Linked DNA regions of Homo sapiens. The protein of the gene in region 2 interacts with the protein of the main gene of each other region in a pairwise test. Each region holds a gene or a part of one and is shown on either strand. Other genes may lie near its edges.

What was found.
Region 1: the proteins of PPIG (region 2) and BEND7 interact in binary tests that used the Homo sapiens proteins (3 or more experiments, as listed by UniProt).
Region 3: the proteins of PPIG (region 2) and KCTD6 interact in binary tests that used the Homo sapiens proteins (3 or more experiments, as listed by UniProt).
Region 4: the proteins of PPIG (region 2) and PPCDC interact in binary tests that used the Homo sapiens proteins (3 or more experiments, as listed by UniProt).

Annotation. Positions count from the first base shown.
Region 1 is NC_000010.11:13,441,971-13,449,343, forward strand, and holds part of BEND7 (BEN domain-containing protein 7), read right to left. Parts: intron 5,350-7,373; coding exon of another isoform or gene 5,347-5,349; coding exon 5,296-5,346; exon of another isoform or gene 4,572-5,295; coding exon of another isoform or gene 4,561-4,571; exon of another isoform or gene 4,117-4,560; intron 3,591-4,116; coding exon of another isoform or gene 3,577-3,590; exon of another isoform or gene 1,735-3,576; coding exon of another isoform or gene 1,679-1,734; exon of another isoform or gene 1,434-1,678; coding exon of another isoform or gene 1,372-1,433; exon of another isoform or gene 1-1,371.
Region 2 is NC_000002.12:169,629,063-169,636,435, reverse strand, and holds part of PPIG (peptidyl-prolyl cis-trans isomerase G), read right to left. Parts: intron 5,663-7,373; coding exon 5,449-5,662; intron 4,838-5,448; coding exon of another isoform or gene 4,789-4,837; intron 4,671-4,788; coding exon 4,503-4,670; intron 3,277-4,502; coding exon 3,189-3,276; intron 345-3,188; coding exon 208-344; intron 24-207; coding exon 1-23. UniProt on the Homo sapiens protein: PPIase that catalyzes the cis-trans isomerization of proline imidic peptide bonds in oligopeptides and may therefore assist protein folding. May be implicated in the folding, transport, and assembly of proteins.
Region 3 is NC_000003.12:58,487,713-58,495,200, reverse strand, and holds the start of KCTD6 (BTB/POZ domain-containing protein KCTD6), read right to left. Parts: upstream 3,106-7,488; 5' UTR 3,032-3,105; exon of another isoform or gene 793-3,031; intron 1-792. UniProt on the Homo sapiens protein: Probable substrate-specific adapter of a BCR (BTB-CUL3-RBX1) E3 ubiquitin-protein ligase complex mediating the ubiquitination and subsequent proteasomal degradation of target proteins.
Region 4 is NC_000015.10:75,026,577-75,033,949, reverse strand, and holds part of PPCDC (phosphopantothenoylcysteine decarboxylase), read right to left. Parts: intron 5,704-7,373; 5' UTR 5,632-5,703; coding exon 5,497-5,631; intron 1-5,496. UniProt on the Homo sapiens protein: Catalyzes the decarboxylation of the cysteine moiety of 4-phosphopantothenoylcysteine to form 4'-phosphopantotheine and this reaction forms part of the biosynthesis of coenzyme A.

The DNA.
Region 1 (7,373 bases), on a different chromosome or scaffold from region 2:
GGATGCCTTCTCTCATCTTTGATGACTGGCTGGTCTTTGGTGGAACAGGGATTTATCCCAGAGGGCCTCTCCTATCTCTAGGTTTAGCGTTTCAGTGTGATGTGACATGAATACCTTGGACAGGGTAGTCAGGAAATTCGGGTTCTAGGCAGGGCCCCAGCCACGGAGGGGTTAACGGGCTCTGGGCAACCGCTTACCCTCATTCATCCTCAGTTTCCCGGGTGGGACTGAGTAGCCTCTACAATAACTTTTAGCTCTTAACATTCTGTGCTTTGCCAAATCCAGGGCTAGGGGAAGGCACTGGAACTGCTAGTGGACAGGTGTGAACCCCGGGTTTGGTGATGTGTAGTCCAAATTGTTCTCATGCCAATTTTTGGCCTTTGGGTCAAGTGGCGAAGATTCAATGCAATTTGCTTTATACAATAAATGAAGTGTAAATGCAGTGTTTCTAAATAACACAGTGTTTTAAATTCACCATCTTATTAGAGAAAGAAATCTGGAGGTAAATATTTCTATAAAACAAATACCTTCATGGCAAGATATCTTTTTAAAATAAATCCAGATTTTCATAAATTAGTTTTATATAAAGTGGAGGGCAAGTATACTAGGAACCAAATAAATGACATAATATTAAGTACATTTTTAGCTAGTTACCACATGGTGCCAAAACCCTGTAGCACTCCGTTAAGACCATCTGTTAAAATGGCTGTCAGGTATCATGTAGATAATTTACTGGTTTTCTCACCTTTTAATTAGTTATTTTGTCATTGTGTTGACGCAACTTAGGTGAAAGGTTTTTCTTTCCTAAGAACTCATAGGTCATTTGCACTTACTCAGTTACAAATGGCTATTTGGGGGGCACTGACGTCATGAATGATTTCATCTTACAGGTCAGAGCTATCCTATCTCCCAAAACAACTTTTTCATCTTCTAAGATGATGAAGGTCTAATTAATCTTGGCCTTCACAACTGCTCTCTCAGCACTGGAAAGAGCCATTCTCCTTTATACTGCATCTAAGCAATTTACATTAAAATAAATACGTTTCAAAGCTCTATATTCATACTGAGGTTTTGAATGAAAACAGGGAAGAGAGAACCACTTCTTTATAATGGACAATGAACTCACTGAATCATATGCTGGACTTTTAAAGGGTAACAAATCAACCCTAAAAATGATTTAAAAAATCTTATACCAGATTGGAGGCTTGGTTATCACACATTACAAAGAAAGTATATGAAACTATTCAAACATGACAGGTAAGCTTGACAGAACACCCACACTTTGCAGGAACCTGAAATGCTACGTGGATCTTTGTGGAAATTCAAACGGAAGTTACATATGCCACTCAACAATGTCACTAAAATCAAAGTCTAGGCAATGAAACCTGGTTCTGTGTCCTCCGTGTTTTCTCTCCTGGTGTCAAATATATTACCTACAACAGAGACAAGAAAATGAAGGCGGAGAGCCGCTTCTCTAAGGAAGAGTTGTACATGGTTCTGTGACATGGCTGGAGGTGGGCGTTCTGGACAAGTAAACAATTTACTGGGGAGGTGTCTGTGTTTCACACTTAAGTCGCTAAGTTTTTAGCCAAGGCTTTAGTTGTCCTCCATGAGCAATTGTAGAAATTGGAAATTTGTAATGATTTTTTATGAGAAAGGCCACGAATGTGTGTTACTATTAGAGTATATCCACATATTGTCCAGTCATGGAAAATGGCCTAAAAGATAATTTACCTGCAAAACAGAATATTATGCAGCTATTAAAATAATGCATATGAAGATTTGCCATAGAGTGGAAAAATGCTTGTTAGGTAAAAATCAAAAAAACATGTAGGAAACAAAATTTTACATATTTGATCTCCACTGTATAAATAAATAAAATGGAGAAACATTTGAGAAAAATCATCCAATAATGGTTGTCTGTGGGTGGTAAAAGCAATTGAAATGTTCTTCCTTACACTTTTATTAATTTTTTAAAAGTATGTAAAATGCCAATTTATGACAATTGCTAAGTCTAGATGAACATCCCCATTTCAAATTTGGAAGCCCCATTTTAAATTTTAGAAAGCACTGTTTTGATTTCACTTTCTCTATACTTTTTTTTTTAATGCAAATTGTCCCCAGCTCCTGGGTGGCTTTTCTTGAGCCCCAGACCCTCTCCACACATCTGTGCTATAGCATTTATGTAATTCCTTCTGCCTCTCACACTAGTCTGAGGGCATTTGTACACCAGCACCCAACACGGGGCTGATTCTTGGTAGTTGCTCAAAAAGGCTTAGTGAATAGGGTTAAGGGAAACTAAAATAGATGCACTACAGAAGGTGAATCCATTTCTGCTAAAGCCTGATGAACAGAAGGTTGCTTAAATGTAATGCATCCAAACAAATGTCATTTGACCTGCCTGTAACCCTACCCTAGTCACTTCTGGTTCATAGAAACACTTAAGCATTTACATCCCTTTCCCTGCCCTTCCCCCAAATACACAACTTTGGAAGGAGGAAAAAAGACCTTAAAAAAGTAATAAAAGCATTGTTGAATCTTTAAAAAGAACTAACTGTTGCTAGCTCAGATAAATGGGATAATGAGAGTCTGTATCAGAGCCCTTGGTCGATCCTGTGGTTCTGACCAGTGAGGCTCAAGCTCAAGGATGAAACCACATGTGCGAGAAAGGTGGAGTCCTTAAAGGGCACATGTGAGGAGGGGTGTTAGGAGCAGCACTGCATTCAAAGAAGCCAACCAGAATGGGGATTTTACTTTGGAGGCAATCAAGAGACATGCTATCCAGGTGAATATCAAGATTACTTAATATTATTACTGCAAAATTTGAGCATCAATCTGAGACTTCTTTTCCTTCTTTTTTTTGAGACGGAGTCTCGCTCTGTCACCCAAGCTGGAGTGTAGTGGCGCGATCTCGGCTCACTGCAAGCTCCGCCTCCCAGGTTCACGCCATTCTCCTGCCTCAGCCTCCTGAGTAGCTGGGACTACAGGCGCCCGCCACCATGCCTGGCTAATTTTTTATATATTTTTTAGTAGAGACGGGGGTTTCACCGTGTTAGCCAGGATGGTCTCGATCTCCTGACCTTGTGATCCGCCCGCCTCGGCCTCCCAAAGTGCTGGGATTACAGGTGTGAGCCACCGCGCCCGGCCTCTTTTCCTCTTTTCTAAATGATAAACGTTTTTATTTATCATGCTGCTTAGTGATTTGTATCAAATATCTATCAATAGTTTAATGAAAAGATCTGCAAGTGTGTTATACTATTTTCTTCATTATGACCTCACAGCCTTGGGTAAAGTTTGAGAAAAGACTGGAAGAAACGAGTTTCAGCTGCAGTGAACCGGGCCGACTGACGACGAACATTTTAATTGTGAAGACTGAGACAGTGAAGAGGACTCCTAAAGGGATTAGCACATCCATCATCTCTTAGGATCTTTAAGAAACATGCAGAGAAAAGCTGGCTTTGGCTTAGGTATGAGAAAGCTATATGGTATCATGGCTGGGAGTCGAGGGACCTGGGTTCCGGCCAGGCCGTCAACCAGCTGTGAGGCCGTGGGAAAGCCACTTAATGTTTCTGGGCCTCAGGCTTTTTTTCCTGTAAAATAAAAGGACTGGATAAAAAGAAGGGATTGGACTAGAGGATCTCTCAAGTTCCTTCTCATTCTCAGATTCCTTGACATTTTTTTCAGTTCCATGAGGCTCTTCTAGCACCCTCTGACCTCAGTTTTCTCACTGGAAACGTATCTCCAACTTCAGATAGGAAAATACAAAGGCATTCCGTACTCACCACTTGGGGGTGAATATAAACTTCAAGGGGAGTGGCTTTCAAATAATAAAAGCTCACTGTGTCACATGACACAGGAGGACAGGCAGTGCAGATGGCCAGGGTGGGAGGGCACTTGGGAAGCACAGCTAGAAAGGCATGGTGCTCCCCTGAAGGGCCTTCTGAAGGCTAGGTCTATTACGATTAGGATTTCATGGATCGGCTGGGATTGGGCCCAGGTGATAAGAATGAGGCTGATATGCGTGCCCTGATATTCAGAGAATGACAAATTGGGAAGGAACAACAGAGATCACGTATTTCAATTCTCTTAATTCACAAATGTGAAAACACAGCCAAAGAAGAACAGAAATCTCTTTTATATAATGACTCTGTATGGGAAGAACTTGATGTAGGCAGGTCTTTTTGCACTATGTAGCTCATTTGATTTATCTGTCCATTGATCTGTTGCTTAGCTACTCAGTGGCAGAGAAAGCAATGTGTCTCTTACACGGCTGAATTTTCCTGTTGCTCTGAAGCTCTGAAGTTCACTAGCACAGGCCCATCCTATGCCTGCGAATGTGGCTTTCCTTGCCATTTTGGGATATGTGCTGTCAATGAATACATGGCCTAGTCAAGTTCCTACACAACCTAGAGACTCCACTAATATTTGCTGAATTTAATCAACACAGACCACCCCAAAACTAGAGGAAAAAACATTCGGTTGAACCTTTTCAGTAAGAGGGTTTTTGGGGGTACCTGGGTTTTGTGGGCAGAGAATCTTCAGATATCCTTTGGAGGGAAGTCAGTAGAGTCCTGTGACCAATGGAGGGGATACATTGTTTTCCACAAGGCTCATTGATCAGACACCTGCCCCTCTGGCTCTCAGATATGAACCCATACACAGGTAGGAAGCCAGGGTCAGAAGCATTACTTGAGAGTCAAATAACATGAAGTTGGAATTATGTCTATGGCTTAACACAACAGCGTGCAGCAAATGCTTCCATGGAAGGGTATCTTCAGCTGATCTGGTCCTGGTATTAGGAATGTGCCACTCACGCCGGATGGCTGGCCTTGTTCAAATCGCTCAGTTAAAACATAGTATTCACTGGGTGTCCACTGATTGACTGCTCAAGGCTCCAAGGCCGTTTGGAGGAGGTGGGAGAGGACAGCCTAGCCATGAATTTGATCACACAAAATTAGTGGTCCCCGTTTTAAGGTGAAATCTCATTTCACGTTAAAAATATTTTGTAATGTCCAAAGGTTTGGGGAGGCAAAATGTTATGATACTTAGTTCTTAGGATTTGCTCTTCTGAGATTTTTATGAAAATAAGAGTGTGAGAAAAACGTTTTTCTATTCAGTATGAAAAACATCTCTGAGTACGGGGCCTTGAGAAGCTCCAATGACGGGGCCTGGTCCACTGCAGAAGCAGTTTGCTCAAGTGTCTGCATGTCTAATGTTAAAATCGTTTTCAATGCAAATAGTTTTGTGGGCTGTATTTTCCAGGAGGTGATGAAAATGTAAATGCGTTTTATTTACCTGTTGGTGGTAGAGCAATGCCGTCCAGTCTTTCATCACTGTCCGCGATCTCTGCTGGTTACAAACATAAGACACAAATCTCATTAGTTCCAGGGAGCACATTCATTTTACAGAAAATAGTGATGTAATTTTAAAAACTCCAGTATACATAACTGTTTTCACCATTCTTTTCTGTTTTCAGCTACCGTTGGTTCATATTACAGATGTTAATATCATTATTTGAATATTTTTTGATGATGGTGATATAAAATCAACTTTCCCGTATTAAAACTTTTTTTTTTTTTTTTTTTTTTTTTGAGACGGAGTCTCGCTCTGTCGCCCAGGCTGGAGTGCAGTGGCGCGATCTCGGCTCACTACAAGCTCCGCCTCCCGGGTTCACGCCATTCTCCTGCCTCAGCCTCCCGAGTAGCTGGGACTACAGGCGCCCGCCACCACGCCTGGCTAATTTTTTGTATTTTTAGTAGAGGCGGGGTTTCACTGTGTTAGCCAGGATGGTCTCGCTCTCCTGACCTCATGATATTAAAACTTTTTAAAATCTTATGAACCTCATTCTATTGATCACTGATGATTTCTGTTTATTTTCACTTATTTACATAGGCTTGAATATCGAACCAGCATGTGGGGTGAATTGTTTAAATAGGGTCATCGCGGGGATGTGTCAATGAATTCCTGCTGTAGAATTTGCACTTGGCATCGCCGGAACCACTCCTGGGGGGCAGCTTAGGAAATCTTGAGAATGAACCTTTCTTTGGAGATGGCTGATTCAGATCCTAGAACTGCCAATCTAACTCTGGCATTAACGTGGTCATGAAGAAGGAATAGGCGTTGCTTCAAAAGATTCTCCATTTCTAAGTTTTAAAATGCAAACCTTCGCTCGTGTCTGATAAATGTATCCATCTCCTTGGGAGTTTTCCAAAGGTAGATCCTTCAGTCACAAAAAACCTTCTGTTACATGCGAAAAAAAAGGTGCACGTGTGTCTCTTGACAAGGGATGGGCTTGTTAGTTTCCCGTAACATGTGGGGATGGGAAAACATCACATTATGGCCCCTGGGATAGTTTCGGTGGTGGCCTCCATGGCTCAGGGCCTGTGGTCCCCACAGGCAGGCCCCTGCTGACTGCATAATGTGCGTGGGCAGCCCTTGTGAGGCTGTTGAATGAGGTCAGCCTTGGCACCATGTTGTAACACTGAGTCAGAAGCAGCCTAAACTAGTGCTACGTACTTGTTTTTATTGTTGCTTTAAACATAATCAGGGCTTAGCTACGGCTAGAAATATTGTATGGCTCCCCTGTCTCCTTCATCCTCCAACATCTTGTCCTCAGATGGACGCTCACTGGCATTAATGAAAGACCCCTTGTCTGCTGACCTGCTAGATCCACCACAAAGAGAAATCACTGAGAAGGGATGAAATATGCAAGACCAACCTAGGTTGGATTAGATTAGCAACTGCTAAAAATGATGTTGTATTTGGGAGGCCGAGGCGGGTGGATCACGAGGTCAGGAGATCGAGACCATCCTGGCTAACACAGTAAAACCCCGTCTCTACTAAAAATACAGAAAATTAGCCAAGAGAGGTGGCAGGCGCCTGTAGTCCCAGCTACTCGGGAGGCTGAGGCAGGAGAATGGTGTGAACCCGGGAGGCGGAGCTTGGTGAGCCGAGATCGCGCCACTGCACTCCAGCCTGGGCGACAGAGCGAGACTCCATCTCAAAAAAAAAAAAAAAAAAAGATGTTGTAGATGAATATTTAACAACATAAAAATATTCAAACCATGGGATAAATGGTGTGATTAAGATTCTGGAAACAGGTTTATAGAAAAAATATGGCACATACTGAAATGTTAACTGTGTTTCCCTCTGGATGAAAGGCTTTAGGTATTTTAAATTTTGTTCTATGGCTTTTAGAAATTATTTTATATATGAAAAATAATGAACATATGTTATGTTTATATTTAGAAGACATTATTTTCTTCTAATTGGTTTGAGTGAGTTGGGGACAGATGGTCTTCATGGTAGTTCTCTCACTGCCTAGGATTTTAAAAATCCTTCAATAATAATAACAATGATAATCACCATGTATT
Region 2 (7,373 bases):
CTTTTATTTCATTCAACTCACTCCTAAAAAATAAGAAAAAGAATTGGGGAAATGTTATTAGGAAAAGAACTGTAGATATTATTAGCTAAAATGATATTCTACTTTTCTTAAGGTATTCAGCAATAACTAAAATGACAATAACTTTATGTATAATAGTAAAAGCAAACACTTATCATTACATTTGAAATAATAATAGTTAAATCTTACTTATCCCCCTTGATCCATCTTTCACCACTTGATACCCTCATTCTTTGAGCTCTCTGCATCTCTTGCCTCCAATGTGGAGGAGTCTCACTACGTCTGAAACGATCCCTTGATCTGGATCTGGAAGGAGTTCGATAACGCTAAAGAAAATTAAAATAGGGAAAAATTAATGTATAGAAGTATAGAGGGACTCGCATGGGTGCTGGGAGGGAGGGAAGTACTGGGGTGAGGGTCAGGAGGTAGTAAGGGGTACAAAATAAAAAAAATATAAAAAGCATTGAAACAGTAGCTTAAAAGTATATGTTTCCAGGTTAAAATAAAACGTCTGATATTTCTATACCCTGAAAATTACTAAAATTTCCCAATTTTCATATAGGAAATCAATGAGGCAGAGAAACTTAAGTTGTCATGTTGCAAATTCCAAGAAACATTAATCACAAAAACTTTAGCTGCTAGCCATACGTCTTCTCCATGGAAGAGTCCTAACCAAGTAATGCTAGAGCAACTCATAAGTTGCCAAGTTCCAATCTAAATGTTATATATACTTAATGTTTCAAAGCAAATATTTCTCATATTATGGGGAAAACAGAGTAAATGTGTAGATGTTCACTTATTCAACCCTTAGGATGACCAAACACTCTTATTACATACTGAGAGAACATCAGTGAGCCAAGATATATGAGTGTGCTTTCCTGGAACTCATATTCTACAGGACTTGGAGAGCATGTGAATGAACATATAATCACATATGTTAAACATATATGCAGCTATAATAGAATGGGTATAAAAGGAAAAGGGAAAAGATGCTGACAGGAAGGTTCTGAGTTAAGAAGAAACATAGCATGCTTTAGAAATGATGAGAAGACAGACCAAACATGGCCAAATCTAAAAACTGCAAGGGAAAGTAGTACTACATAACATTGATGAGGTAAGCAAGGACTAGGTTTTGTGTAGTGTCATAGGCCATTGTAGTTATTTTGGATTTACCCTAAGATCAATGGTAAAGGAGTGGCACAAAAATCAGACTTTCATTTTTAAATGACAATTCTGGCTACTATTTTAAAAAAAAGATCAGACAGTGAATCTCAAAGTGGGATCTAGGATCTAAAGACTCGGGGTCAAAACTATTTTCATAATAATATCACAATATTTGCCTGTTCCATTTTCATTATTTCATTATCATACAATAGTGTTATTCAGTTTACATGTTTTGATATCATTACTTTCACAGCTAATGGAATGTGTGCTTATATATTCTTATGTTTCAAGTATTTCTCAGTACTAATTCCTGAAAGAGTAAATATTGATAGATATAACCCACACCAACAGAAGTTCTTTTGGGTCCTCAGTAATTTTTAACATGAAAGAGGTACTGAGATTTAAAAAAATTGAGAACTATCAAAATTTACAGCTCAGACAATATGATGGAGTTGAATTAACATGGCAGGGGTAAAGCTTGAAACACATGAATTTCTGAATATTTAGGAGGCAGAAATGACAGTATTCGGTGATGGGTAAGATATATTCATGTATCTTACCATAGTTAAGTTACTTGCATAGTTAAGGTATAAACTGAAAGGGGAGAATCAGATTATTCTTGGGAAGGAACTGCACAGGTGGTGGTGCCCGTCACTAAAATCAGTAACCTAAAGAAGGTTCAGATTTGAAGAGGAAGAGCTTGTGCTCAACTTTGTAAAAGCCAAGTTTGAGGTACTCATTAGTCAAATGAGTCTTTGGAGCTGAAAAATGCCGATAAAAATTTGACAGTTACCAGCCATGGGAGTCATGAGATTGCTCAAGGAGTATATGCAGTGTGAGAAGATTTGAATGGGAACCCTGAGGTACTACAGTATTTAAAGGTTAGGTAAATGGGTGGACACGGTGGCTCACGCCTGTAATTCTAGGACTTTGGGAGGCTGAGGCAGGCAGATCGCTTGAGCTCAGGAGTTCAAGACCAGTCTGGGCAACATGACGAAACCCCATTTTTACAAAAAAATACAAAAATTAGCCAGATGTGGTGATGCACACCTGTAGTCCCAGCTACTTGGGAGGGTGAGGTGGGAGGATTGCTTGAGACTGGAAGGTTGAGGCTGCAGTGATCCTTGATTGTACCACTGCACTCCAGCCTGGGTGAAAATGAGACCCTGTCTCAGGCAGGTGGATCACCTGAGGTCAGGAGTTTTGAGACCAGCCTGGCCAACATGGTGAAACCTTGTATCTACTAAAAATACAAAAATTAGCCGGGCATGGTGGCATGTGCCTGTAATCCCAGCTACTAGGGGGAGCTGAGGCAGGACTGCTTGAACCTGGGAGGCAGAGGTTAAAGTGAGCCGAGATCATGCCACTGCACTCCAGTCTGGGCAACAAACTGAGACTCCATCTCAAAAAAAAAAAAGGGGGGGGTGGAAAGAATATTACAAGGAGCAAGATTAAGTAAGATGAAGACTGAAAAGAATCCACTGGAATTTGTGACATGGAGCTGATTATGTATCAAGTGCTGTTTTCAGCAGAACAACGGTAGTGGAAGACAACTAAAATGCTTGAGGAATAAGTAGGAAGTGAAGACATAAGACAGGAAAGTATAGCCAAGTTTCTATAAAGTTTTGAAAGCACAAGATATTTAAATTCTGATGAGGACACTCTAGTAAATAAAAAAAGAATAAAATACAAGAATAGGGTTAATTTTTATTTATTTTTAACAAGAATAGAGATACAGTGATTGCCAAGAAACACGGGAGACAAGAAAGACCTCGATCCCATTTTATACCATGTAAATGTAAAATCTATTCATATCTCATGGATTTTCTGTTGGGAAGTACCAACATACAGAAGCTGCTTAAGAAAGAGAATATATAATTCAATGCCTGCATCTCCCCTAAATTTTAGTTACTTGCACATTAAAATAATATTTAAGAAACACCCTAAAATTATTTAAGGAAGACAAATGCAATATTGTGAAGATCTCTGGGGAAAGAATCACCTACCCTTGGTCCTCTTCCTTTAATTTTCCTGCCAGATCTAGTAACTAAAAGTCGTCTCTGGTATGAAGCAGGCTGGGAGTTAGGTGGATTACTAGAAGGAAGCAAACAGAAAGTTAACACATTTTTTTAAAAACTTTTGTTGGCCAGACATGTTACTTTAATAAAAATGAATCTGGGCCGGGTGCGGTGGCTCATGCCTGTAATCCCAGCACTTTGGGAGGCCGAGGTGGGCGGATCATGAGGTCAGGAGATGGAGACCATCCTGGCTAACACAGTAAAACCCAGTCTCTACTAAAAATACAAAAAATTAGCTGGGCATGGTGGCTCAAGTGATCTGCCCACCTTGGCCTCCCAAAGTGCTGGGATTATAGGTGTGAGCCACTATGCCTGGCCAAGAATTTTATTACTTGTATTATGACAATGTATTTCTGATCATAACTAAGAAAAATATTTCAATATTCCTTTTTCTACTTTTGGACATAGTTATTATTATTATTATTATTTTTGAGACGGAGTCTCACTCTGTCACCCAGGCTGGAGTGCAGTGCCGTGATCTCGGCTCACTGCAAGCTCCGCCTCCCAGGTTTACTTATGCCATTCTCCTGCCTCAGCCTCCTGAGTAGCTGGGACTACAGGCACCCGCCACCACACCCGGCTAATTTTTTGTATTTTTAGTAGAGATGGGGTTTCACCATGTTAGCCAGGATGGTCTCCATCTCCTGACCTCGTGATCTGCCCGCCTCAGCCTCCCAAAGTGCTGGGATTACAGGCGTGAGCCACTGCGCCCAGCCTGGACATAGTTATTAAAATGACTGATAAAGAACCATTAGCATTACAGATATTAATAATGTAGATTTATGTAGTAAACTTTTTTCAGGATTTGAACATGACATCAATTTTTATTACAATGTTGTAAACCAAGTAAGGAAAACAGCAGTTTTTCCTATTAGACAAACTGAAAAACCAAGATTCTTACTTGCTTAAGAGTTTACTGTACACAAATAACACTATAAAACACTATCTTGTTTTACTGGTTAAAGAGTATCTTGTTATTGGCTTGGAATGCTGCTTAACATCTCTTTTTTGTATTAGTGTTTATTATGTGTAACTTTACTTCAGAACCTACTTGTAATTTAAGTCAATTTCCCTTTCTAGTTATGTGGTTGGCAAAAAAGAACTTTGCGGAAGAACATTTTATAAAAAAGATTTCAATCTTGGGACAAGGTCACCAATTAAATCTTGTTTAAAATAAATAACTTTTTAAAAAGAAAAGTTCTATGGTAAACCATGTAAGGCAAAATATACATATTCACATACCACTCTCTTTCCCTTTCTCTCTCTCTGTTTTTCCTTTCCTTCTCATCAGCTTTAGGAGGACTTTTTCTCATTAGGAATCTATTTTCAGGTATAGGAGGGATCTCTTCTGGACGGACAGTAGACTGGGGTTGTGCTTCAAGATTTTCAGCTTCACTCTCACTAGATGCACTTAACAGACAGAAACACACAAAACAAGTTACAGTTGGTTATTATGTCCTTACGGAAGTATCCAATTGTTGGTATTTCTTTCCTTTATATCACTATAATATAAACATCCTGTCCTTACCAAAGATGTGATCGCATGGGAAAAATCTTCTATTCCTCTGACAAACCAACTAACCAATCAAAAAACAAACAAAACAAAACGTTTCGATTATCACACTCTCAAAAAATATTTTCCTACAAAATGGATAAAAAATATGAAACTATGTGAGCAATGCACTCTGATAAATTTAAAATACTTTAAAACATGGGTAAAGAAATTAACTGCATTTGAGCCATAGGCAGATGAAGACAAGTTTTAGTACAAACACAGATTATTTCAAGCAAAATGGAAAAGAAAGTAAAATACACTGACATTATCTGCTTTCTATCCTTATGCTATCGTAAGAGCAAAGGGGACTGCTACTGAAAATAGGAAAAACAACTGGTGGTTTTCTGCAATTTTCATAAATCCCATAATCCTCCTATAAAACACACAAATCTGTAACACCAAAGCTGTATTATTTCATTGAGTACACAAAAAAATGAACTGATAGGTTTTCTTTCAAAAGAAAATGAACGTACCCAAAATTTAATCTATAGACTGTGGAATATCAAAAGTCCTACGCTCCATGCTATATTTCTCACTATTTTAACAGTTTCATATAATTGACCCAAAATCCTAACAGATTTACAGAAAGGAAATCAGAATATAAAGCTAGCATTAGAAAAGTAAAATTAAGACCTCTTCTTGCTTTTCTTTCGCTTTTTCTTTTCTTTCTTGTGTTTTCGGGAATTTTTCCGATGTTTCTTTTTTCTTTTCTTTGATTTCTCTTCAGTAGCACTTTCGGAATCAGAGGAATCAGAAGAGGACTGAGAATCACTTGAGCTATCTGAGTCACTAGATGAGGAGGAGGAAGATGATGATGATTTATGCCTTTTCTTTTCTTCTTTCTTAACTTTAATAAAAACAAAAAGGTTTTGATCAACAATTTTTAGACAAACTTTGTGGAAGGAGATTTAAATTTTCTGCAGATTCTCACTAAGTTCAGTATTTAGCACTTAGATCATCCAGCTATGTGAACTGGGAAGTACAGGAAAGGAGTCAAGACTCAGGATTAGAGTCCAGATCTCCAGAATTCACTGGTCAAAGTTTTATCTATTAATCCAAAGAACTTTAAAAAATAGGTGAGTCTAAAATGCTAAACTAATGTTAACAAACATCTGAATAAGAATTTTTTTTAAAAGCACAGAATAACAATGAAGAGTCCCATGTTCTAATCTTGTAGTTTTCCACTTTCCCTCTTATTATCAAGATTGGCAGAACTAGTGCAGGGAAATAACAGAAAAACTGCTTTACAGCAACATGGAGAGATAAGAAATGGATTTCACTGGCATGGGCTTATATTTCAGTGCCCAAGCAGTCTTCTAATAATTAAGAAATTTAGCTCAAGAGGAGACTCATAACAGAGGGAAGTCAATTGCCCATGATGAATAGAATGTTTTGGGGACTCTACAAAAAGTCATTTTAAATTGAAATTTTATTTCAGTTAAGGAAGCAGTAACTTTAAAAAGGGTAAAAAAAAAAAAACTCAGAGTTTAAAGGATCAATTAATATAAATAAGTGAAGCTAGAAGGTGTAACATAACAAGAATTAGAAGAAGATACTACAAATTGGGAGGAGCTTGACCCATCTAAAGGTATACTCATTCAAATCATGGTGGATTTGAAGAGGCTAACTGGGGCCAAAGATGGGACAATATTGATATATACATGAGAACTACAATAAATTGAGATATATCAGATTATATTAGAAATACATTAGTTCACAGTGATACTCATAAAGTATAAAGCATTTATCTTGCCTTTGTGGTACAAACTGCACCACTGGCTAATGAAATGAATGAAGGGAAATAGCTCTTTGTCAGAAGCATTCCAGGAATAAATGAAAAAGAAATTATAGTGTTAAAATATCGTTTTACAACTTCTTGTGAGGCACTGATAACCCATGGCTGCTGCAAAACACAGAGACAACTTGTCCTGTGTGACTCCTGTTTTCATTAAAAGGAATTTCAAGTCACAACTGCATCTGATCAACATTACATAACACAGTAAGGACTCAATTAGTAAAATCCAGTATGTTCAATTATAGAAAATGCTACATGACAAATGACCTACCTTTTCTGAGAAATACATTTCAAGGAAACATAAAACAAGATGGTGAGGGAATTTATTAAGAAACAAAACACAACTTACAAGACCAATTTCAATGTCTGAACTTCATTTGGATTGATTCACACAGCAAAAAATTAATTAACATTAATGAAACAATTACAATCTGAACACTGTCAGGATTTTTAGTATTTAGGAATGTGTATGTGTGTATCATTATGGTACTGTTTTTAAGAATCATCTTTTAGAAATAACATTTATTGATAAAATATTATGCCTGGAATTTGTTTCAAAATAATAGGAAAGGGAAAAGTGGCTAGTGATGGGTAAAACAAGATTGGCCATAAATAAACTCCTGAAGCTAGCTAAAGAAAAAGTGTTATATTATTTTATTCACTTGTGTATAAATTAGTATGTTCCACAATAAAAAGTCAAGGAAAACAAAGAAAATATATCTTTGGATTATCTGTTGGTTGTTTGGTTACAGAACCTTAGTTG
Region 3 (7,488 bases), on a different chromosome or scaffold from region 2:
TTTTACTTGATGAAAGCAAAGAAATATCTAATATTTCAGAAAATCTACCAGGAATGGTAACAATAAAAAATTTTTCCTTTATAGTGACTTTCCTTACTAAAACTAAAGATGGTTTTGAAAGACAGCAAATGCAACCGAGCACAAACAGCTATAAAATTCAAAGAAGCCTCTGACCCTGAAAAATCAGTTCACCTGAAAAGATGTAACCTTTGATGCAAATAAAATTCTTGTGAAAACAACACTGCCCACTCCCCAAAGAATATAAAGCAGTGCTGAAAATTCAACCATGTTTAAGCTTCAAAGGTTATTGTGACTAATGTATAAATTCTGACAGTGTCATGTTAGCAGGTAATTAAGCTTAAGAAAACACATACTGAAGAATTTATAGAAACCTTAAAAGGAAGTATTAATTTTCTAAAGTAGCATATCTGAAGAAATGCATACATAATTCAGTAAGTTAATAACTTAAAAAAATAACCTAAGAACCCTTAAATGCCATTCTCCCTATCACTGCAGAATTGCAATTACAGGCCTAATGGTTATGATGAACTAACTTAACAAAAATATTCTGGGTTTATCATTCCTGCTATAGATTAAGAATTCTCCGGGGCAAAAGTCCTAATCCTATATAACTACCTATATGTTGCAATAAAAACCTCCAACGAATAATAAAAAACTCCAACTACTGACTTCCCAGAGTTTCCAGGCAGCCCTTTAAAAATGCTTTTTTACTGAAACCTTCGTGTCTGGTAGTCAGAAAAGACTCAATAAACTCCCTCTTTCTATACTTACCTTCAAAATTGCCTTGTATTGAGTTTTGCTCTTCTTGAAATGTGGGAGTTTGAAAGCGAAATACTTTTTATAGTAACTAGTTCAGCGACATCTAAAGGAGTCTTTGGGGTTAACATTCACATACAGGCCAGCATAAGTAGCCAGGCATACAAGGATAATGTGATTATGGTTAGATTATCCTTAACCATACCACTGCAGAAATGGATTTTTCTCTACAAGTAATCATTTTCTCTTTCTCCTTTCTCAACCATGTGGTCTAGAAGAGAGAAGCTATAGGTTTAAAAGTGACCTAATATTAAAAAGCTGTCACAAATAGTCACAAAATCATAACATTCCTCTTAACCCTCAGTTTCCGCAAGATAAAACGGGATAATACCACCTTCCCAAAACGGGGTAATTACACCATTTAGGCACAACACAAAGGCAAAAATTGGCCTATAAGAGTAACACATCAGGACAAGGAAAGAGAACAGGTTCCCAGGGAGGTCCTGTAGTTGAATTCTGCTCCGTTACTGATTATGAGACCCTGAGAAAATCACTCTTTATGCCCAGCTTCTTCTTTGGGGAAATGGAGAAAATAAGGGAGATCATGAATATAAAACCATCTGTAAACTAGCAAGTATTAGACAAATGTGAAAACATTAGTGGCAGCAGCATAAACAAAATTTCTAGGTTAACATGAGAAACTTGAGTGTGAACACAAGTAATTTAGAGCATTGGCCTGGAGACGGCAAATATGGAGGAGGCAGCCTCTTAATTTGCTTCAAATCTCCCCAGGTCCTCCTTTTCCCAGAGCTCCAGAAGGGAGAACTATATACAGGTAAAGGGGAGTGTCTAGTTTTCCCAGAGTTCACCAAACACCTGAGCTCCTGATCTCAGAAGGAACTTCTTTAAAGCATGACTCGGGATTATCTCCAAGTTAAAGCTGAATCCAAATACATACAGGTACTCCATTTTAAATGGACCCCAAATATCAAAATCCAAGCGCACTGAAGGATTCATAGGGTTCACCCTAAGATTCCTTTAAGTAGTAATGCTTTGGTTAAAATATGATTTATGAAAATTCAAATCACAAAACTTTGGAATGGCATCCATGGCTATCCTGACCACTCCATCGTTCATATCTAAGGCATAGCACAAAATCAAGTATCAGTATGGACTGATGGTTTCGGCCAAAGAGAAAATACTCTCAACCTACCAACCCTGCTGACAAACACATTTTCCTTTTCCTAGCTACATATTCGTTCATTTGAAAACATCTCAATCTTGGGCTCAGGACTGTGCTACATGCTGTCCCCAAGCTTCTCTCCTATCCCAGGATGATTCAAGTAATAGGGCATTTGTGACAGCGAAAAAAAGAACATGCCAGGGGGATATAGAAGAGATACTTAGGCTACCCCAAATATTCTTAGCCGAGCCGGGTCATCCCAGGTCACTTTGCCACCCAAACCTCTTCTATCACAAAGTCCTAAAATTGGATCCATCAACTTGTTCTAGAACTGGTATACTTGAACAGAAACATGGTAACTTCGGCAGAATATCCAAACAGGATCTCTGTCACGTTTCATTTCCCCGTCCCACCCCCAGACACAGCCTCCACCACTGTCAGCCCAGCAGGTGCTGCCAGGGCTCCCCATTACCATGGCCATTTATCACCTCTGACATCAAGCATTAAAAACGCCACCACACACACACAAATCTAGGCATAAAGAACTCAGCTGCGATCTGAGAGTCTCTTCAGGGCAGAAAATCCCAAAGGCAGGGTTTTGAGTCCTGCCTCAAGCTTTAAACTAGGGCAATTGGTGGCTAATAAGCGCCATCTCCCAAAAACAATCATTTTCGAGCACACCCCAAATATCTCCGTCCGGGCCGCCCTTCGCTGCTGCCCCGCCAGCGAAGCCCCCGCAACCCGACCCGGCCAGGGGTAGGGCGGGCGATGCTCCGGGCCCGGACGAGGGGCGCGCCGCGGGGCTCCGAACCCGGGCCCGCAGAAACCGCGCATCCCCGCCGGGCGGGCCCCGGAACCCCCGCCCAGGCCCCGCCGCGGGCACCTCCGCTGCTGGCTCGTGCCAGCCCGGGACGCGCGGTCCCCTCAACGCGGCCCCGCCGCCGCCCCGTTCCAGGAGCCCCCGCCCAGATCCTCCTCAGCCCCGCTCCCCTGGCCGCTCGGCGCAGACGTCTCCTGAAACCCGGCCCTCCCAAACCCCGGCCCCGCAAGCCCCGCGCCAGCCCCACTCACTGCGCGGCGGCGGCGGCTGCTGCGGCCGGGCCGGGAGATGCCCGCGGCCGGAGAGCGCGAGCGCGGGGACAAGCGAGCCCGCGCCCGGCGACGGCGGCGGCGGCGGCGGCAGAGGGGACGACTGAGCCCGCGCCCGGAGTTGCGGCTCCAGCTGCCCGGCGCGGGCGGCGCCTTCCCAGCAGAGCCGCGGCGCCACGAGCGCGGGCGCCCCCTAACGGCAGCGCGGGCTGGAAGCCAGAGAGCGGGCGGCCTGAGGAACTCAGCCAGCGCAGTCGGAGCCGCGCGGTCAAGACCACACGACCGCAGCCCCGAAGCCCCGCCCCGAAGCCCCAGTCCCGCCCCTTAGGCTCCGCTCCGAAGCCCCGAAACCCCGCCCCTACGTCCCGCCTCCGCCCGCAGCCTGGGGTCCGCCCAACCCCAGGCCCACTGCGTCCTCAGGGGTGGTGCCTCCACAGCTGTTTCTCCTTAGTCATTTCACGAACTTGTATGGGCCCCCCACTATATCTCAGGCCTGGGGGTTTAGGAGATACAGCGGCCACCAAGACGGAGGCGGGTCCTAATCAAAGGAGAAGACAGACAAGACTCAAGGAAACAGCTAATAGACAAAATAATGACAAGTTATGGCCGTAAGTGTTGGGAGGGACATGATTAGAGGACTTAGATGGAGAAGAAGGGAAGGGAGCCCCTGCTCCAAACGCAGTGGCCGAGGAAGACCTGGACCCCGACCTGCGGCCAGAGCTCCTCCTGCCTGCCCTGCATTGGGGAGACAACCCTGCGATGAGGCCTGTGAAGAAGCCCCCGGGGCCACCGGGGCAAGACGGTCTGGTCCGGCCTGACGGGCAAGACAGCAAAGGGCTGCTGGGCCCAGAAGCTCAGCAACACGGGCAGCCAGGTGGAGAGAAGGGCAGAGCTACCTTCAGCAGACAAAACGACCCATGCAAAGGCTCTGGGGCCTGGAGGAGCTCGACCCTAGATGAGACTGGCGCTGGTATTGTCCCCACTTCACCAGGAAGGAAGCCAAGGCTGCAGAGGATGGGCAGCACCTAACGCCTCAGGGCTAATTGGTCTCCATCCGTCCACTCGTTCCAAGTCCATTCACTTCCTGCTAGCCAGGCCACTGTCCCCTTCCGGTGGGACCAGTTACCTGATGCTGGGTTTAACCTTCTCCACCAGAATAACCACTGGCCTTAGAAACTCACTTGGGTTTCACGTCTGCATGTGTGTGAGCTAGCTCTGGGGTTGAAATTGTATCAGCATGATCATCACAGTTATATCTGATACTTGATTTGTCTCCAAAAGCTCAAATTGATAGGTTAAATAAATGACATATGCTTCATCAACATAACTGAGTGCTACATTATCAAATTCACAAAGACTAGGTGAGAATACAGGGAAATGTGTGTGAAAATGATCAATACACAAACTAGTACACATGATATCCTGATTTTATTTTTAAAAACATAAATATATACAGACAAAAATTTTGAAGGAAATACATCAAACCATTGACCATCGTGTTCAAGATAACAGTATGGGAATGTTAATGGCATTACTTCATAACGTTCTTCTGAATTTTCATGAATATTGAATTTATAATCAGAACACATAAATATTGAATTTATAATCAGAAAAATACAATGAGTTTTGGTTTGGTTTTTCTTTTTTTTTTTTTTTGCCCCCCACTCCTCCCCACCCCACTGGGTTTTGTTGTTTTTTAATAGAAGGACAATACCAAAATTACCCAATACTCAGATCTCCAGAATTTGGTGCCACTGAAAACCCAGAATTGCCTCTGATTTACTGGGTATCCTTGAAAGAGTCATTTCCCCTCTCAGGGCTTCTATTTCCCCATATAAAAACTGATGGATTAATTTTGTTGGTGATTTTGTCAGACCTAGTCCCTCCTATCTTAAAATTTTTATAACTAGTGCTAATTGTACTTTCACTTTTGTATTTTATAATTGATAGATGGCTATTGAAATGCAGTTGGGTTTTATATAATCTTATATTCAGCAAAAGTGAACTCTTTCAGTTCTAATAAGTTTGTAGGTTCTCTTGAATTCGCTGTGCAAATAATCATAGAGTCTGCAAGTCATAACAGTGTGGTATCTTCCTGTCCTTTTTTTCCTTTTTCTTGCTGTACTGTGCTGACTAAATTCTCTCACACAATGTTGAAGAGCAGTGATGGTAATGGGCATTTTTATCCTGTTCTTGACTGCTTGTAACATATCACCATTAACTATAGTGTTTGTTGTGGATTTTTTGATAGATATTCTTTATCAGGGTAAGGAAGCACTATTCTTCTTTACTATGAATGGGTGCTGAATTTTATCAATGTGAGATTCCCCCCATTGCAATGTAATGAATTACAACCATGGATCTTACTATATTAAACCATCCATGTATTCCCGGGATAAACTCGCCTTGATAATGTATTTTTTTAAGTCAATGCATTTTTATTCAAGGAATTTCACACGTCATGATGTATTATTTTTTCAGTATACCGCTAGATTCCATTTGCTGATATTTCATTTAGGGTTCCATTTGCTAATATTTCATTTAGGGTTTTTGTATCCACGTGGATGACTGAGATATGCTACTATTTGCTTATTCTCTCCTCGTCTGGCTTTGCTATCAAAGTTACATGAGCCTCATAACATACCTTAAGGAATGAGTGTCTATTCACTAGACTGGGATTTTCTGTAGTTTGAATGTTCTATAGGATTCTCCCGCAAACCATCTGGATCTGTTGGTTTGGGGGGTTGGGGGTGGAAAGGGTTTATATTGGAAGCTGTTTGCCTCCACAGAGCTCAGGGTTGCAAGCCTGCTGGGGAAGGCTGGCTTCTGGTTTACAGCTGCCCCTGACCCTCTGCACCTTTCTTTTCCAGGTGGCCACCAAGTATCCAGGCTCCTGTGGTAAAGATACTGATCCTGGTCTGCCCTGGGGCCAGGCTGACCTGGAGGGGGCTGTTTATTATTGCAGCTACACCTGTTACAGGAAGGAACCAAGCCCAGCACGGTGCTGGGAGGGCAAAGGGGCACCAGCAGTTGACAAGACAATGAAGTGTGGAGATCTGAGTCCCCTCCCTCTCTCCCTTCTCCCAACTCTCACTGCCTAGCCGACCTCACCTCCTACTTGTCAGGAAAACCTTTCCCCTTCAGTGGGAGCCCCCTAGAACCCTCCTCTGCCCTCTTTTGGAATGACCTGCATTGCACTGTCCTCCCCTCATGAGATGGCTGGGGGATTCCACCTCCTGTCCAGGTGATCCCCTCCCTGGGCTCTAGTCCATTCCTTCTCCCACCCTTTAGCCTCTCCAGGCTCAGATCTTCCATCCCTCCCTCTCTCCAGTCCCCATCTCCCACGCCCATCAGCAGATAAACAGCCTCAGGTCTCTGTCCCTGACTCAAGAATTTTCAGACTTCTCCTTCGACACAGTGTCCCCCTCCCTCTCTTCCTTTGCTGTGTCCCCCCACTTCCCCTAAGACCCCAACCCGTAACATTCAATCTGGCCTCAGGGCCCACCTCTCCATCTAAATGGCTCACCAGAATCCTCCTTGATACTAAATCTGAAAGAACCTCCTCCGACCTGCATGGCTCAGGCCTCTCCGCAGCAAGGCTTCTGCAGTGACGTCTGCCAGGGGACAGCCCCTTCCCTTGGCTTCTAGGATGCATGTTCTCCTCCTTCTTCCATAGCTCCTCCTCTTAGACTTACAAAGATGCTCCTCTTGCTTTACCCCGACACTTAAGCTCAAGTTCCTGTTCAACACAATCCCCTCCTCTCCATGTACCCCTCTCCATGGAATGGTTCAGCCACCTCCATGGATTCCTTTACTGTGTCTGAGCCAAAGGCTTCCAAATCCCTGTCTCCAGCCCAGCCCTCTATCCTGAATCCAGAGCTATAGATCTTGTCTGTTCTATAGCCCCAATTCTGTACAAGGTACTGTGCTAGGTGCTTTTACCCACTGTATCAGTTACCTTTTGCCACATAACAAATAATCCCAAAAGGTAGGGACTTAAAACGGCTTCCAAGTGCTTTCCCCTCTGTTTCTGTGGCTCAGGAACTTGGAAGCAGCTCAGGGTCCCGCAGGAGCTTGCAGTCTAATTGGCGGCAGGAGCTGCACTCATCTGAAGCCTGGAGACTTCCCTTCCAAACTCACTCATGTGGCGTTCAGCATAAGGCATTCATTCCTTGTCATGAGAGTCTCTCCTGACAACATGGTAGCTGACGTCCCCCAGAGCAAGTGACCCAAGAGAGAGCAAGATAGAAGCCACAATGTCTTTTATAACCCAGCCTCAAAAGCGACACACATATGATTATGGTCCCACAGATCAACCCTACTACAGTGTGGGAGGGCACAACAAGGCGTGAACCAGGAGGCTGCCACCACACCCTCACGACAGCTCTGAGGGCAGAATACCCCCACCTCCCACGGGATACGTGAGAAGGCAAAGGCAC
Region 4 (7,373 bases), on a different chromosome or scaffold from region 2:
AACCCTTCTGTGTGCTTCCCCAACTTCAGAAAATTCTCAAGAAGGAAACCAGGGAGGTGGTCTAGGGAGGCTCTGCACAGGAACGTTGTTCTGGGCAATCAGGGAAGGACCCTGGGGTGCGGGACCCTCTGCCCAGAGGCCGACAGAGCTCTGTCCCTAGAGGAGCAGGTGACAGGGCTGCAGGCCAGAGGAGGAAGGGGCCAGCCAAGCAGGCAGAGGCACAAATAAAGGTCTCAGAGTTTCCACATCAGGACACAGAGCGGGCAGGTGGCCCCCACCCAGAAAAAAAGAGAAATCCTCAAACCAGGCCTTATGTCTTCTGCTCTTTCCTCAGTGAGCACTTTAAAAAAAAAAAGCACAAACTTATCAAGAATGTTCCCCAATATTCCCACCAAAAGCCCCACTGACTTAAAACAAACAAACAAACAAAAAAACACACACACACAAATATACACATAGGTTACAAATTAAAACTGAACAGAATGATACAAAAATGAAAAATGCAAGTTTCCCTTCCTCCACTGGTCCCCCTTCACAAGGGTAACCACCTCCAGAGGAAAAAACTGTGTGCAGTAACTCAGTATAAGAACACACAGAAGGAATCAGGCTGCATACCAGGGGTCGGCAAACCTTCTCTATAAAGGGCCAGATGATATTTTAGGCTTTGTCGTAATGATTTAACTCTGTAGTAGCACGAATGCAGCCATAGGCAATACGTAAATGAATGGGTATGGCTGTGTTCCAATAAATTGTCTTGGACATGAAATCTGAATTTCATATCACTTTTTTTCCGAGTCATAAAATACTATTTTTCTTTTGACTTAATCATTTAAAAATGTAAAAATCAGGCCAGGCACAGTGGCACATGCTTGTAATCCCAGCACTTTGGGAGGTGGAGGCAGACAGATCACTTGAGCCCAGGAGTTTGAGACCAGCCTGGGCAACATAGCAAAATCCTGTATCTACAAAAAGAATGCAAAAAAATTAGCAGAGTGTGATGGCACGCCTGCAGTCCCAACTATTTGGGAGGCTGAGGTGGGAGGACTGCTTGAGCCTGGGAGGTCAAGGCTACAGTGAGCAGTGATCACACCACTGCACTCCAGCCTGAGCAACAGAACAAGACCCTGTCTCAAAAATAAATAATAAAAATTAAAATGTAAAAATCATTCTTAGCTGTAGGCTATACAAAAACAGGCAGAGCCGAATTTGGCCTTGGGGGGGGGGGTCCAGTTTGCTAGCTCCTACACCCTGCTTATTCCGCTTCCATCTTGATGATTGCTCCCTTCAGCACAGAGAGAGCCACCCCATTTTTCTGAATCATTGCCAAGTAATCCACTGAGAGATTGTCCCATAAATCATAAGGGCACCACAGCTCTCTACTGCTGGATATTTTGTTTGCTTCCAGTTTTGCTTTGAAATTATAAATAATGCTATAATGGACATCCTTTCACTTTGTAAATACACCCCACAGAGTTTAATCCTGTGGGTAAATCAAGGACTATGAAGATGTTTTAATTTCTCTCAATATTGTCAAGTGGTCCTCCAGAAAGTCAGAATTTACTCCACACTGCATATGAGCAGAGCCTTCTTTTCCTCACCCTCGACAGACCTGGATGTCCTGACAGACACCCTAGAAATGTATCCTTCTCTGAGCCCGAGGCCTGCTGACTCCTTGAGTTGGGGGTTTTCTCTATCTTTAGAAATCCCCTTTTGGCTCTGAATTCTGCTGACACCTGCCCTGGCAAAAGCTAGGGCGATGTCTGTCTTCTCCTCCCAAGTTTGAAGGGTGTGGATGAAGGAGTTCAGGAAATGCCACCCCATAATATGCGGCTTTGGTATGCTGATTATTTCAAACCTGAAGGCACTGGGGGAAAAACAAATGCAGGGAGGAACTTTCTCTGAACTTCTCTTATCTGCCTAAAGAGGGATTCCCCTTGTCCTGAGTCCCCCTCCCTGAGAAAGGAAGACTGACTTATTGACAATCTGCTGAGGCATCTTTTATTATCTGAGAGGTTTTTATCTGCCTAACAAGACCGTATAATTCCTCCCCTCACCCTCCCATAACTTGTGTCGCCACCACCCCCAGAAGCCCCAAGCCCCTATTTCCTTCTGTAGCTCAGGCTGCTATACAGGCTTCAGCCATCTCACCCTTCTGGGAATCTCATATTTTGTGGTACACCCATGTGCAGATATGTAACTAAATATGGTTTTCTCCTGTTGATCTTGTTTTTTGTTGTTATTGTTTTGAGATGGAGTCTTGCTCTGTTACCCAGACTGGAGTGCAGTGGCATGATCTCAGCTCACTGCAACCTCTGCCTTCTGGGTTCAAGCGATTCTCCTGCCTCCGCCTCCTGAGTAACTGGGATTATAGGCGCCCACCACAACCGGGTAATTTTTGTATTTTTAGTAGAGCTGGGGTTTTACCATGTTGGCTAGGGTGGTCTCGAACTGGCCTCAAGTGATCCGCCCGCCTCAGCCTCCCAAAGTGAGCCACCGCGCCCGGCCCTGTTAATTTTGTTTATAAGTCAGTTGAACTCATAGCCCAGCCAAGCAGCCTAGCAAGATGGAGGAAAGCCATTTTTGCTCCCCTGCATGGGCCAGGCTGCCAACCCCAGGGAAGAAACTGCCTGAGCTGACAACCCGGATTTTACTGCCACTCAATTACATGACAACTACGGAACTACAAAACCCCCGGCATCCTGAAGCTCCTGAGCCCCAGGACCTTCTCTCAGGCTGCCTTTGGGTCCTAGTCCTTTTTGCCCTCACATCTAGAATCTTCTAACACCAGTGCCAGAAGAGGCCCTGGAGATGGATCATTTGAGAACCTGCCCCTCCTTCACTGTGTGGATAAGAAAATTATGGCCAAAAAGAACGGACTTGCCCAGGGTCCCAGCGTCAGAAATGTGCTCAGCTGCCTCTCTTGTGACACGGTTGCCCACCTGCCCCAACATACTCAAGGTCATCTCTGCTAGTGACTACTCTCCCTGACTGCTGGTGTGTGTGGCTTGTGGCTAATCCATGTCTCTCCACCACCCCTCACAGTCTCCCTGATTTGGCTACCTTGACATTAGCGGCTTTCCCGGGATGTCTGGACATACTGGTCAATCAGGAACAGTGATGGGCCAGATCTGTAGAATCCCCCAGCTCCCTGCAGCCCACACCCCAGCTGTTCATGTGCTAGACAAAATCTGGATGTACCTAAGGAAGTTCCGGAAAGCCTTGAGCACCTGAACCCACGACTCAGCAGGTGAAGAGCTGAAAGTGACTGCTCCAAGGGACAATGATGCTCCTGCAGGAGATCCAGCAGGAGGCAATGTGGAGATCAGGGCCATCAGGGAGTGAAGGGGAGTGTGCAGGGATAGACGCCACCACTGGGGCCAACACAAGGCAATCCAGGGATTACCTTTGGATCCCAACACCTCACGAGGGCCCTAATAAGCAAGGCCAGGCTTGGAGAGCTGTCTCCCTGCAGATGAAAGGCATGGGCCCTCCACAAGAGCAGGTGAACTGTGGCTTCCATGGCTCTTCCCAGTGGGGTTGCCCCACACCATGTGGCTGGCCCAAAGGACATGAACAAGGGGAAAGGACAGGGTGATGGCCAGGAAACACACACAACCGAGTGCTTCAACATGCCAGGCTCTGTGCTGAGTCACTGGCACAGGACCATTTTCATCTGTGACCCCTCCCACCCCAGCCAACATCTCAGGGAGCCTGACAAGAGTCTGGGGGATGGGCAGCAGGAATCAGCCCTATTTTCAAATGGGAAAGGCAAGCTCCAAGAGGCTGAGTCGGGGAGCCCTCCCTCCCAGTTCAGTGCCCTCTGGCTGCCTCACTTTTGGCATCAACTCCAACCAGAGAGGGGAAGCCAAGTCCTGTTCCAGACATGGCCTGCCATCCCATGGGGCCCAGGCTAAAAGGCCCTGGGGTGGGCTGGAGCACCTCCCTGCTCCAGGCAACCCTTTCCTCACAACCCCCCTCCCACCAAACGCTGGCTGCGTGGGATGGGAGGAAGCGGTAGGGTTGCCATTTCCCTCCGCTCTGAGGCTGCCCATCTGTTTCCTGGGATAGGACTCCCCGCCCCTATCCACCCCTAGTCCGGAAACTCACTTGCCCTGGGGCTATGGGAAAAGGGAACTGCATGGCTCCCTCCCTCCCCAGGGGGTGGTGGCAGAGGCCTCCCACCCTCACGGCTCTAGCTGGGCAGCTCCTACCAATGCTTCTGGGTACACAGCGGGTGGCTGGGCCTAAGCAGCACTGCCCTAAAAGTGCAGCACCCAGTGTCAGAGTGCCACGAGACTCTCCTCCCTCCCCCACTCTGGCCTGGCTGTCATCCCTGGCTGGCAGCTTCATGGCTTATCCCAGCCCTGGGGGTGGGGTGATGGGGTGACTTTCTGGGTGGAAGTTGGTGGAAAGTAAAAAAGTGAAACACTTCCCAGCCCAGCCCCAGCTGATGTGACCACGTGGTCATCTGTGAGTAAGCACCGCCCCCTGCTGGACATGCCAGATACGGCCACTGCACCTTGGGTGCTCAGCTGATAACAAGAGGGAAAAGCCAGGCCTGGGGCCCAGCAACTTCACAAGACCCCACCAAAAACTAGGGGCCAGTAACACCAGCAGTGTCTAAGGCAACCTATAGTTCTATGTCAAATAAGTTTAAAAGAAGGGGCCAAAACCACAGGGGCTGGGCTGGGGCAGACAGGGAAGGCTTTGCACAGAATGTGAAAAGGCGAGAGAGGAGCAGAGAGGGCAGCCAGCCTAGCAGGGCCCAGCCACGCAAAGACCAAGGGGGATAAGACAGACCAACTAAGGGCCCTGGAGGTGGAACTAGGAAGTGGGGCCACTCCCTGTTAGATTTCACGCTGTTTAAAGCCTTGAACTTCTGCACCAGAACCCCAATATAGAAAATAGATCCAAGTTGAGGGTCTGGCCAAGGACGGGGGCTAGAGTCCCTCACCCCAGCACACAGTCGGGGGCCCCTGGGGCAGCTCTGAACACCTGAAGGAGCAAAGTTTGAACCTAGAGCTTCAGACAATGGGGTTTCAGAGCATTTGACTGACAAGACAACCATGAGGTCTCACGAGGAGGGAGAACACAGCCGCAGTGTTCAAGGCGGAATGAAAGCAGGGATGGGGAAGCCCAAGGCAGGAGGGGATACTGAGAACTTGCTGCACTTCTCCAGCCAGCCCTCCTCCCACACAGGACTTCACGGATTCTCAGGGTTAATGTATGGGAGCCCAAACCCTCCGTTCACTGGGTCCTTTCCCAGTCTCCCCTCATGCCCTGTCTGTACTATCTAATCTAGCCCCTGGTTACACTGGGCACTGGTCTCTGTCTCCTGAATCCTCCACAGAGCACCACACACACAGGACCTCCACAAGCATGATTAACATGATAAAGAAAAAGAAAATTGCATGTACTGCAGAGCAATGGGCCATCCCCGGGAGCACCGGCCTCCCATGCCGGAGGCTGCCATGCTTATCTGGTGAGGATACTCACCCCAGGAATGTCCAAAAGCTTTGACACCAGAAGAGGCAACTTCAGGGCTGCGACACTCCCCGTGACACCCACAAGAACATGGAATTTTCTCTCCATCAAGGGTGCAGCAGCTGGACAGGAGGCCTTTGGTTCCATGTGGGGTCTGGTGGCTTCAAGTTCTGGGAGCCTGCCAGGCCTGGGCTCTATAAAGCTGTCGGGATTTAGGATCTAAAAGGAGAACAAGGGCCACCCCCTTCATTCATACAGTCGACCAGAATGTATGGAGCACCACGTATTAGGCCCCAGGCCAGAGGCTGAGGCAGCGGAAGGGATCAGCAGTCCTGGCTTCAGGGAGCACACAGTTTGATAAGAAAGTGAGACACCTTCCCCACACATGGGCCAGTCACAAGGGAATGATGCAGTGCTGTGGGGAAGGGCTGTACCAGGTGCGTGGCTGCTCAGGGTGACCATCTCTAGAAGTCAGAGATTGCATCCCAGAAAAAATGACATTGGGGTTGAGTCCTGAAGGATGAGTTAGTTTTTCAGAGACAGGAAGAAATCACTTCAAAGGAAGGAACAATCTTGCCAAGGTGAAGGTCCTGAGGAGGGTGGCAGGTTGGGGAACAGGGAGTGGCTTACTAGTGAGGCCGGACTGTGATGGGGGGTGGTAGAGGGGCAGAAAGTGAGACTGAAAGTCAGGGTGAGGCCAGAATGCCGTGGGCAGCGAGGGCCAGGGTGAGGAGTTTTGGTTTTAGAAAGACGGTGCTGGCACCTGGTGACAGTGTCAAAGGGACCCTGTTAGTGGAGAGACTGGAGGGCGAGAGGAGCTGCTGCGGTGGACTGGGCTGACTGGTGAAAGGAAGCGGCAGGAAGGGATGGGTTCCAAAGATGCTCATGAGGTGGAACCCTGGGCAACAGGGAGGTTTGGGTGCTCCAGGGAGCCAAGAGATTTGCCTCTCTGTCCCTGTCCCTGTTAATCAAGATGGGCACCACCGTACAAATCAAAGCCCAGGAAGAAACCAGCATAAAGGGGATGCAGGCCACCCCAGGAGATTAGCTGGTTTGCTTCTTCCTCTGGCTCTCAGACGTTGCTAGAAGTGTGCACTCATGATAATATGGCTGATGGACACCAAAACCTACACGTGGCGGGTTGGGCCAGCAGAACGTGCTTCATCAGCAACCATCACTGAGGACCGATTACAAAGAACACCATGCAAAGGAATTGTGGAAAACACAGTAGCTGCCTCTGGGGAATCTGTAGGTTGAGTTTGAGAAGACAGGAATGACACCTGTCTGAAATTATTTGAGATCAGTCCTTCCCTGGGATGCACCTTTTTGGTGATCACAGACTCAATTAACACATCAGTTTCCTTGCCTCTCCCTCCACCAGCAAGCTCCCTGAATGTGTGACCGGGTCTAATTGCCAACCAGCAGTCCACTAGCCGGCAGTCCTGAACAGGTGCTGAATGAATAACTATACCCTCCAAGGCAGTGTGAGCAGAAGACAGATACCTAGCCTGTGAAGCAGAAGCCCTGGGCCCTGACCATGGTGTGCTCCTGACCTGGAGTGACCCTGGTCCAGGGTCATTCCCTCCCTGGACCTGTCCCTTCATCTGAAAAATGCAGAGGTAGGACCAGATGATCTCTGAAGCTCCTTCCAGCAGAAACTTTGAGTCAATACATGAAAGAGAGCAGTAAGGGGCTCTCCTTCCAAGACAGAAGGTCCTAGAAGATGCACTCAAAAAAGAATCAGCATGGCAAGGGAAACCCAGGCAGCTGCCCAGGAAGCAGCGCTGGTGAGTTGTCCAATGGCTACCTCCATGGCTGAGCATCCACAGGGGCCTATCTCCTCTTCACTCACAGGCCCCTTGGCTCTCTAGCCTCTCTGCCCAGGATTT